Linked DNA regions of Homo sapiens: all the other regions are linked to region 3. Evidence: fine-mapped QTL for protein levels in blood plasma. A gene starts in region 3. Each other region holds a variant in brackets. All regions are shown on one strand. Distances are between the middles of the regions. Region 1 overlaps LOC107985327 (a long non-coding RNA gene). Region 2 holds the start of MIR8074 (microRNA 8074). Region 3 holds the start of CD33 (CD33 molecule). Region 4 holds the start of LOC101928517 (a long non-coding RNA gene).

What was found. PIP is the chance, under the fine-mapping model, that this variant and not a neighbour inherited with it causes the effect. Protein levels are from the aptamer-based SomaScan assay of Sun 2018.
Region 1: its variant is fine-mapped to the plasma level of the CD33 protein (Sun 2018, PIP 0.95).
Region 2: its variant is fine-mapped to the plasma level of the CD33 protein (Sun 2018, PIP 0.95).
Region 4: its variant is fine-mapped to the plasma level of the CD33 protein (Sun 2018, PIP 0.95).

What each region holds. Positions count from the first base shown.
Region 1 is chr19:51,244,560-51,247,245 of GRCh38, reverse strand. All of the region lies in intron 2 of LOC107985327 (a long non-coding RNA gene), which reads left to right. It also overlaps a transcript of SIGLECL1 not described here. Among named protein-coding and RNA genes, the nearest start is that of SIGLECL1, 5.2 kb to the left of the region's middle. The variant G/A (reference allele first, on the strand shown) is at 1,004.
Region 2 is chr19:51,205,949-51,208,634 of GRCh38, reverse strand. It overlaps MIR8074 (microRNA 8074), which reads left to right and starts at 1,626; the gene lies at 1,626-1,706. The region is part of intron 2 of LOC107985327 (a long non-coding RNA gene); the gene reads left to right. The variant AC/C (reference allele first, on the strand shown) is at 1,236.
Region 3 is chr19:51,223,612-51,226,297 of GRCh38, reverse strand. It overlaps CD33 (CD33 molecule), which reads right to left and starts at 1,218. Exons shown (of 7, transcript NM_001772.4): 1 at 1,143-1,218; 2 at 700-1,080; 3 at 217-495. The coding sequence starts at 1,179. The region is part of intron 2 of LOC107985327 (a long non-coding RNA gene); the gene reads left to right.
Region 4 is chr19:51,180,482-51,183,167 of GRCh38, reverse strand. It overlaps LOC101928517 (a long non-coding RNA gene), which reads left to right and starts at 1,202. Exons shown (of 5, transcript NR_110732.1): 1 at 1,202-1,694. RefSeq lists an enhancer at 980-1,951. The variant C/G (reference allele first, on the strand shown) is at 1,232.

The sequences.
Region 1 (2,686 bases), 21 kb before region 3:
ACTGGACTAGGGGAGCTACTGACATCTTGTGTGTACAACCTAGAGACGCTGCTCAACATCTGACCATGCACCCTTGTTCCTGGACCAAACCAAGGGTCAGGCTGCTTATTCTCTTAGCCCAATGACAAGATGCAGGTGAACTGGGAGAGAAGGGAGTTTATTTCTGTAACTGGGCACAGGGAGAAGATCTGGAAAATATTGCCAGACCAACTCAAAATTACAAAGTTTTCCAGAGCTCATATACCTTCTAAGCTATTTGTCTACATGTAAGAGTGCATTCATCTGGACGTAAGCGATTAACTTCTTCCAATCTGTAACTAAGATGTCAGTCCTGAAGATCTTCCTCTGTAGCCTCAGTAAATTTATTTAAACTAAATGGGTCCAGGTGCTGGGGTGATTACCCTTATCTTGTCTCCTGCTAAATCATGGAGGTTTGGGGAGTTCCTTCAGACCCCCAATAAACTTGTTTGTGGAGGCTTAGAGGAGTTTCTTCAGACCCCCCAATAAAACTTGTTTAATCCTAAACGGGTCCTGTTAAGAATTCCTTCATTATCTTGTTATGCTCAAGGCCCAGAAAAGGCCTGGGCAAAATTCTTGGTGGGCTTTTGTTACATTCCAGCCTTTGTATGAGGGCACTGGCTCTGTCAGCTTTTAATATTTAACTTAACCACTCAATCAGTGCTGAGACAGTTGTTATGGAGGCCTGCCTGTTCAGCGGTTAGGGAGACCTGACCTGCCACACCCTCCCCTAACCACCACCACCAAAGAATTATCCAGCCCCAAATGCCAGAATATGAATATCGTTGAGGTTGTGAGGCAGGATAAGTAAGGTTAGGAGGCCATACTCACTTGTATCCTTGCGCAAAGCCCCATGGATCCCTTTCGAAGCAGATTCTTTGGTTTTCACTCTCGTGAGTCAGCACCTAACTCTTGCAAGATAAACAGTCCTACAGGATACAAGCAGACCACCAGATGGTTGCAAGTTCCTGTTAATGTGGCCTGG[G/A]AAAGAGAACAAAAGCCACTTATTCATGGTGTAGTTTCCCCAGTCTCCAGCCAATCAACACCAAAAACCCAAGAAGCTGTGAGCTACAAATTCCTGCCTTGGGGGAGCTGGGAACTTCTCCAGGGCTCTGCGTGTGCAGCTATGTTCAAAGTTTAGCTTATAGTGACCTTTTCCTCATTTGAATAGTAGAAAATACACCCCTAGGTGGAGATTTTATATGCTAATGATACATGCAATGCGTGTTAGAGCACATAGATTCTGAGTGCATGCCTTTCATGCTGGACTCACCAATATTTTATGAATATGTATGTATAGTTCCCATGAAAGGAATTACCTTGAGATGCTAGAGGCTGTCTCTCCCTCCCTCTGCCTCTCAGGGTGTACTTTCGCTTTGTAATAAACTTCTTTGCCTACTCTTACTTTGGACTCGCTCTCAAATTCTTTTGTGCCGCAAAGTCAAGAACCTGAACTGGCCCACCAACAGCAGTTGATAAACTGCTCTAATCCAAGCTGTGGGAAAGTACAGGGGCTGGGAGAGGGGACAGGGTAGGGAATGCAGCTTGTCTGAGGAGGTGATGTTTGAACCAGCTCTCAAAGGATGAGTGTGTGCTGCAAAGAAGGAGGGCAGGGGACAATATTGCAAAGAGACAGAACCACATGAATGAAGCATGGAGAGGCACAGAGGGACATGCAATCTCTAGGATGTGGCTGAGATGTGTGAGGGGTGGTAGCTGAGGGTGAGATTGTAAAAAGTTATTTTTTGTTTTGTTTTGTTTTGTTTTTTGAGAAAGAGTCTTGCTCTGTCGCCCAGGCTGGAGTGCAGTGGTGCGATCTCAGCTCACTGCAACCCCTGCCTCCCGGGTTCAAGTGATTCTCCTGCCTCAGCCCCTCACGTAGCTGGGACTACAGGTGCATGCCACCACGCCTAGCTAATTTTTGTATTTTTAGTAAAGACGGAGTTTCACCATGTTGGCCAGACTGGTCTCAAACTGCTGACCTTATGATCTCCCTGCCTCAGCCTCCCAAAGTGCTGGGATTACAGGCGTGAGCCACCACACCAGGCCTTTTTTTTTTTTTTAGACAAGGTCTCACTTTGTTACCCAGGCTGGAGTGCAGTGGCGTGATCTAGCTCACTATAACCTTGAACGCCTGGCTCAGGGGATCCTCCCACCTCAGCCTCCCAAGTAGCTGGGACTATAAGTGCGTGCCACCACACCTGTCTAATTGTTCTTTGCTTTTGTAGAAACAGGGTCTCTCTATGTTGCTCAGGCTGGTGTTAACTCCTGGCCTCAAGCAATCCTCTTGCCTCAGCCTCCCAAAGTGCTGGGATTACAGGCATGAGCCACTGTTCCTGGCCTGGGAAAAGCTTGAATAACTCTCACTAGAGTCAGAACATCATCTTGAGGCAAAGAGGCAGGCATGGGAGGATATTTAGCAAGAAAGATACAGGGTTAGAGGTGAGTATTAGAAAGCTCCCATTGCTGATGGTTTTGGTGATGGGCTGGTTGGGGTGGGACTGGAGCCCAGAGGCTGGGGAGGAGGCTTTTGCCATGTTCTGGGGAAGAGGAGTCAAGATGGGACCTGGATCTGAGAGTAAGGGGAAGGGGACAGGCCAGGAACTTGGTGACTTACAGGAATGGGTGAAGAGGGAAAGGGAGAAGTGGAACAAAACTCTGGCCATGG
Region 2 (2,686 bases), 18 kb after region 3:
TCATCTGTGACCCAGGAGCGGGGACCTCACTAAGAACCCAGTTGTACTGACATCTTTATTTTGGTCTTCCAGCCTCCAGAACTATGAGAAATAGATGTTTGTTTTTTGTTTGTTTGTTTGTTTTTTGAGACAGAGTCTTGTTCTGTCACCCAGGCTGGAGTGCAGTGGCACGATCTTGGCTCACTGCAAGCTCCGCCTCCTGGGTTCACACCATTCTCCTGCCTCAGCCTCCCGAGTAGCTGGGACTACAGGAGTCCGCCACCACGCCCGGCTAATTTTTTATATTTTTAATAGAGACGGGGTTTCACCGTGTTAGCCAGGATGGTCTCGATCTCCTGACCTTGTGATCCACCCACCTTGGCCTCCCAAAGTTAGATGTTTGTTTTTTAAGCTAGCCGGTCTGTGATATCTCTTATTCTAGCCCAAACTGACTAAGGTAGCTTTGGTCTAGTTCTTTCTCCTTTTTTATTAGATGTATGAAGATCCAGTGTTAGAATTATGCTGACTTCCTGACATCCAAAGAAGCAAACACTGCTTTTTAAAAAGTTTCCCCAAATCACCTAACACAAGTCCAAATCCTATAATAAGCCAGTTATAATTCTCTCTTACTGAAACACCTCATGGTTTTCGTGGTTCCTCACTGCAATGAGTAATAACCCAACTACATATCTATTCCTGGTGCCTGCTGATCTCTGGCCAGAAGACACTGACATGTTTATTGACTTGGTCAATGTTGACATTTGTTTCCTTGAAGCTGTTCCAGGATTTGGATTTTATTAATGACTTTTTGTTCTACTGATGGCAGCTAGGGTTAGTGAGATGAGGTGGGTTCCCATCCCCTGCTCGCTGCTGACCTGAGGACTATGTCCCACTGTGTTTGGAAAGCATCAGCCCTGCCCTGTTTCCTTACTGTCCTCCAGTCCAGCCAGAAGAACATAGGCTGGGCGCAGTGGCTCATGCCTGTAATCCCAGCATTTTGAAGGGCCAAGGCAAGTGGATCACCTGAGGTCAGGAGTTCGAGGCCAGCCTGGCCAACATGGTGAAACCCCATCTCTACTAAAAATACAAAAATTAGCCAGGTGTGATGGTGGGTGCCTGTAGTCCCAGCTACTCAGGAGGCTGAGGCAAGGAGGATCGCTTGAACCTGGGAGGTGAAGATCGCTGTGACCAAGATCATGCCACTGCACTCCAACTGGGTGACAGAGTAAGACTCCATCTCAAAAAAAAAAAAAAAA[AC/C]ATAATAAGAACAGAATAGATTGGAATGCATGTTTTCATCTTTTCTAATTACTCTCTCTGCTGGACGTTTGCCTAATGACCTCATTTTCTGATTGGAAGCAGGAATGTCAGCCCTCTCTTAGGAGTATTTCATTGCAATCAACATAATTACACAGGAAACTGGTGTCCCTCTAAAGTGGAGACGTTTGGACAAGTTGTTCCATAAGTCACTTTTCAAGGTAAGATGGAACAACCAAGTTGAAGGAGGGATGGTAGCAGCTGCAATGAGGTGAATAGTTTTATAGTCAGGAAAGGGTCTCTATCACTACACTGTGTTTATTTCCTCTTAAGCCAGAATCAAGGTATCTTCTGAGAGTAGGGTGGTGGGAGGCAGCAGAGAATAGAAGAACCCAGTTCCTGAGTTTATGCAAGATGCCCATGGGAGCCCAGAGACGTCCTATGGCGAGACTGGCATGTACTCACACAACTGAAACCCTCTCAAGATAAGGGTCATTCTTTGACCAGAGAAAACAGCATCCTTCATGCCCTTCCATATTAATCTCTGCCTCCACATACAGTCTGAGAAGCAACCAGTGTTCTGACATTTGTCACCATCAACTAGTTTTACATGTTTTACAACTTCCTATAAATGGATTCACACAGTAAGCACTTGCTTCACCCTGAGCATCTCTGCTGTTTCTTTAAAATTTCAGTAATATTTGAAAATCAGAAAAGAATTTCTTCCATTTGCTAATTTAAAGTATAACATTCAGGCTGGGCCCGGTGTCTCACGTCTGTAATCCCAGCATTTCGGGAGGCCAAGGCAGACGGATCGCCTGAGCTCAGGAGTTCAAGACCAGCCTGGGCAACATGGTGAAACCCCATCTCTACTAAAAATACAAAAAACTAGCTGGGCATAGTGGTGGGTGCCTGTAATCTCAGCTACTCAGGAGATGGAGGCATGAGAATTGCTTGAATCCAGGAGGCGGAGGTTGCAGTGAGCTGAGATCGCACCGTTCTACTCTAGCCTGGGTGACAGAGTGAAACTCTGTCTCAAAAAAAAGAAAAAGTATAAAATTCAGTGGCATTTATTGCATTCACAGTGCTGTGTAATCATCACCACCATCTAGTTTCTGAACATTTTTATCACCCTGAAAGGGAAACAGTCACTTTCTATTGCCTGCTTCCCAGAGCCCCTGGAAACTACTAACGTGTACCTATTTCCATGGATTTATCTATGCTGGATATTTAATGTGAATGGAATAATTTCAGTCTTTCATCATTGAGTGTAATGTTACCTGTGGGTTTTCTCTAAATGGCCTACTAAGCTTGATGAGTTTCCATGTCTGGCTTCTTTTACCAAGGGTAATGTTTTCAAGGTAAATCCATGTTTACGAGGATAATCCTTGTTGTAGCATGCATCATTATTTCATTTCTTTTTTTGGACTGAGTGATATCCCATTGCATGGAA
Region 3 (2,686 bases):
AGAGAGGATTTCCTTCAGTTGGGGGTAGAGATGAGATAAGGGTAGGCATTTCCCCTTACTCCTGCCAGAAACCACAGAAATGCAGAAGGGACAGGGCTCATGTCCTTCTGGCTCCCGAACTCAGCCAGGCCTCCAGGACACTAAATGTCCCCAGCACCAGCCCATCCTGTCTCCCCTACACCCTCAGGGACCCCAGCATCCTGGCCCAGCACTTACAGGTGACGTTGAGCTGGATGGTTCTCTCCGTAGTCACACCAGCTCCAGCGAACTTCACCTGACAGGTCAGGTTGGTGCCGTGGTCCTGGGGCCGTGGGGTGATTATGAGCACCGAGGAGTGAGTAGTCCTGGGGCCCAGGGAGGTGGGGGCAGCTGACAACCAGGAGAAGATCGGGGGTGTTCCCTGCTCACAGGCCCAGGACACAGAGCAGGTCAGGTTTTTGGAGTGGCCGGGTTCTAGAGTGCCAGGGATGAGGATTTTGGGCCTGTGGGTCAAGTCTAGTGAGGAGAAAGAGGGGATGCAGAATCAGGAGGGAGGGTCCAGGTGAGGGCCTGAGAGAAGATCAACCTCTGGTCAAGCTCCCCCGCTAAGCACGACAGGCTTTACCCCTAAACCCCTCCCAGTACCAGGGTCCCATCCCAGCCCTGCCCTGCAGTACCCATGAACTTCCCTTGCGGCCACTTCTGAAGCCTGTGCCTCACCTGTCACATGCACAGAGAGCTGGGGAGATTTGTAACTGTATTTGGTACTTCCTCTCTCCATCCGAAAGAAGTATGAACCATTATCCCTCCTCCTGGCGTCTACGATGCTCAGGGAGCAGTTGTTCCTACTGGGATCCCCAAGGAGGCGGAATCTGCCCTGAGTCTCCTCCTGTACTTCTTGATCTAGCTTGTTTGTGGCCACTGGAGAGTCCCTGGATATAATGGCTCCTTCCCGGAACCAGTAACCATGAACTGGGGAGTTCTTGTCGTAGTAGGGTATGGGATGGAAGAAAGTGCAGGGCACGAGGACGCACAAACCCTCCTGTACCGTCACTGACTCCTGCACTTGCAGCCAGAAATTTGGATCCATAGCCAGGGCCCCTGTGGGGAAACGAGGGTCAGCTCGGCCCAGCCCGACAACCCCTCTCCCCACAGCCACTCACCTGCCCACAGCAGGGGCAGCAGTAGCAGCAGCGGCATGTCTGAGGAAGCAGCTTCCAGGGCTTCCTGTGTGAGCAGAAAAGAGGAAGGGAGTGGAGGGGAAGGACTACAGGGCCGGACAGGAAGCTGGGGAGGAGCAGGAGACCTCAGCCCTGCATGGAAGAGGAACCTCAGACCCACACATGCTCAGAGCTTGTCCCCTCCACACAGATTGACCCTCATGGGCCAGAGATGCCAGAGACCCGCCCAGAGATGGGAGGAGATGGAGCAGAATCTGAGTCTTGCCTTCCAGGAGCACCAGAGCCTGGATCAGTACCTTCAGGGCCATCTGAGACATGCGAACCCCATGTCTAAAGTCCTTCCACTCTGAGGTGCTTTTCTGTGCACAACTGTTTACACCAGGGCTGATCACTGCTGGCCTGGCCCGAGTCGCAGCCTCACCTAGATCCATGGGGTGTTTAGTCCAGCAGGATATAGGATTCTATAGGGTCCGTGTGAGTGTCTGGGGCAGAGAAACAAAGAAGAGTCCTAGGTAAAGTGAAGGTGGCAGCCATTCATTTATTCATTCATTCACTAAAGATATAGTGAGTGACAGAGCAGGAGCACCGTCATCTCGGAGAAACACTGCCTCTTTAAGTTCCAATTTCCTTTCTAGCCTCATGCATTTCAAGGAAATCACTTCTCTGCTAACTACAAGCAACCAGAAAGAGCAGACAGTGAAACACAGATAAGACAGCTCGGGCACAGAGGGAGGTAGGGGGAGAGTCTCTTGAGTTACTGCCAAACTTCACCCTCATACAATGGCCCTAGTAAAACAGTGGGCCTTAATAAGCAAATTCCTTTCCCTTCAGGTGCACTAAGATAGGGAAGCTAAAAGCAGACTCAGTGGGTATGCCTGTAGCTGCAGAAAGATGTATGGGTACAGACACACACCTCTCTCTCCCAGATAAGCACAACAAAGAGACTCAGAAGCAGTCCAAGTCTCTGATAAACTCTCCCACCCTAAATCCTTAAAAACTCTTAGTCTGTAAGAGAGTGTGCCTCTGACTTAACTCGGCCAGAAACTCCTCTCAGGTTTGTTTTCTCTAAAATCTGTCTTGACTGGTGAGCCACCATTCGTGTTTCTTTCCTCTTTCTTTAATTCTTACAGTGAGCCTTTGTGTATAGGTGGGGCTTGAGAAGAGATGCCACTGACCTGATTCCTGCCCTTAAGATACTCCCCATCCATAGCCTCATGTCCTCACCACACACACACATGCTGTCTGGCTTTAGAGCTGTGAAAAGTTGGGAATTTGCCATGTATCATGGTAGCATATTGGAAATTTTAAAAGAAATATGACTATAGAATTTTCCCCTGGCACCTAGTACACTGATTTGCACAGTGTCAATGACATCTCCAAAACAAGAACCATGCAGCATCTTCCTGTGAAACAAAAGGGAGAACACATGTTCTATGAACCAGTGCAGAAAAAACTTCTTTTCCATTCATGCTGCCATTTGGTTCAGTGTGGGCAGAAGCAAGTTTTTTTAGAGGCTCATCATATGG
Region 4 (2,686 bases), 43 kb after region 3:
AAGGAAGCAACGCTGACCACAGCTTGGTCTCAGACTTCCAGCCTCCAGAAGGGTGGGAAAACAAAGGCGTTGTTGAAGCCACTCGGTCTGTGTTCCTTTCTCAAGGCGGCCCTGGCAAGAGAGTCCATGGAGTGGTCGAGAGGATTCGATGTGTTCCTGTGAGCACAGCCCGGTGTGGACCGCGGTGGATGCAGAGCCCCACAGGGGTCTGGGACAGCCTGTAACATGGGATGCTCAGAGGATGGAAGGAGAAAAGGGAAGGGAAGGGCTCCTCACCAGAGGAAACCTGTGCTGCTGCCGCCCTGTCTCTGACATCTGCAGGGCTGCCCCCTCCACCCACACTCTCCCTCCCTCCCCAGGACCGGGCAGGGCTCTCAGCCGCAGCCCCTCGCTGCCCCTGCACCCTGGGCAGTTGCCTCCCATCTATGGGGCGGAGCCGCCTGGGCGTCTGGGCTGGGCGAGGCGGAGCCTGGAGGGGCACCGGCCACGGGCAGGGGAGACAGAGGCGGGCACAGCCTGGCGGGGTCCGGGCTGAGCCAGCGGGGAGGACGGGGCTGTGGGAGCCCAGCGGAGAGGGTGAGGATCCGCGGGCAGGTGGGACAGGTGAGCTGGGAGGTGAGAGATGGGCAGGGCTGCCTGAAAGGCAAGTTCATCCCAGAGCAGCGAGCAGGGCGCAGCCAAAGGCCGTGGGGGAAACAGCGGCGAGAAAAAAACGGCCAAAATTCTGCCCGCAGTGCGCCTGTATCCTAGCGGGGCGGCCACAAAAATATTGTTGAGTAGCAAGAAGTGTTTCGAAAGTGTGCAGTGGGTAAAGTGTGAGAAAATAAAGCAGATTTAATCAAGAGGAACGGAGTCCTCAGGGCTGGCTGGAGAGGAGCGTGGTTTCAAGAACGCGGTCAGGAAAGGACTCGCTGAGAAGAAATTTGGCGCCCAAACGTTCCTGGCACCGCCCGCGGCTGCTGATTGGCTCAAGCCCGTAGGATTCCTCTGGGCCTGAAGGTGCGGGGAGGGACTTGCACTTTCAGCTCCTGATTGGCTGTGCGTCAGCTCCCAGAGGCAAGTGTCCGTGGGGGAAAGCTCCATCTGCCTCGCAGATCTGCTGCGTAATAGGCACCTGAAGCTGCTGATTGGCTACTAAAGAGGCCTGTGCAGCCACTGATTGGCTGTGGGGTAGACGCACAACGTGCGAGGCGCGCGGGCTGGGCCCAGGGCGACAGCGGAGCCTTCACAC[C/G]GCTTTCTCCGCGCGCTGATGGAGGATTCCTGGCCTCACAGCAGTGCCTGGCCTGTGGGCGTCCCCGGCAGTCCTCGGCTGCGGGACCTGTATCGGGACTGCGCAAAGTGGGCTTCCAGGAGAGCAGGGCGTCCCTCAGTCAGCTGACCCCTTGGAGCGTGGGGCAGCCCAGGCCCGTGAGGCCGCCAGTGTCACCCTCAGGCCCGCGAGGCCCCCGAGCCCCTTGTGGGGTCCAAGGCCCATTCTGGATCAGTCACGAGGCAAGACCGCGGACCCTCAGGAGATCACCAGGAGCCCGCCGCGCATTCCTCCGCCTCCACCACGCCAGTCACCTGCTCAGCCCGAGGGCAGCCAGCGGCCGTCGCCCCAGTGAGGCGGCCGGTGAGGAGCTGAGGCCGTGACCAGGGCAGCGCCCCGCGAGTCAGCGTCAGTCCCCGCGCCAGCCAGTTCCTCAGACAATCAGGTAACGCGCCCCCACGGCCTGCCCTGGCCAGCAGTTAGCTGGGCTCCTGCCAGTCAGCCTCTTAGGAGGTCGTCCCCTGTAAGGCACTCAGTCGCTAGTCACACGGTTACCGCCTGTGTAGACCAGGTAATCGGGTTCACGCTGTGAGTCACTGGGCTCCCTGGCAACCCAGCCTTTATGTCAATCATCCATAAGCCAGTCAGTGATTGACTGCAGCCCCCCACCCCCACCCACACCCCCACCCACCCGTTGACCCCTTTGGCCTCAAACACGTTCCTCATCCTCTCTGCTCCAGGGTCCGAGGAAATCCAGGTTTGCACATCTTCACTGAACCTCCAACTCCATCTCCTCGTATACTATGTACATATATATGTATACACACACATATACTATGTACATATATATGTATACACACACATATACTATGTACATATATATGTATACACACACATATACTATGTACATATATATGTATACACACACATATACTATGTACATATATATGTATACACACACATATACTATGTACATATATATGTATACACACACATATACTATGTACATATATATGTATACACACACATATACTATGTACATATATATGTATACACACACATATACTATGTACATATATATGTATACATATATGTATACATATATATGATACTGCATGTAACACCTTGGACTCATCTTAAGAATTTCTGCTATTCCCATTTGGGTGATGGGAAGCCACTGAAGGGAGCAGAAAAGTGGATTTTTAGAATTTACTCTGTCTTCCCTGTGGAGAACAGATTGGAGGTGGGCAGGGAGCAGGTGAGAGGATAAGTTTCCTCACTGCATACTGAGGTCCCACTATGGAAAGTGAGTCCCTGAAGGCAAAGACGTACAACTTTCAAAAGCACTGTGGACTTGCTTTGCGCGCAGTAGGTGATAAATATGTGTTGATTGGCAGGCTTACCAAATCTACAGAAAGGTAAACACACAAGTAGCAC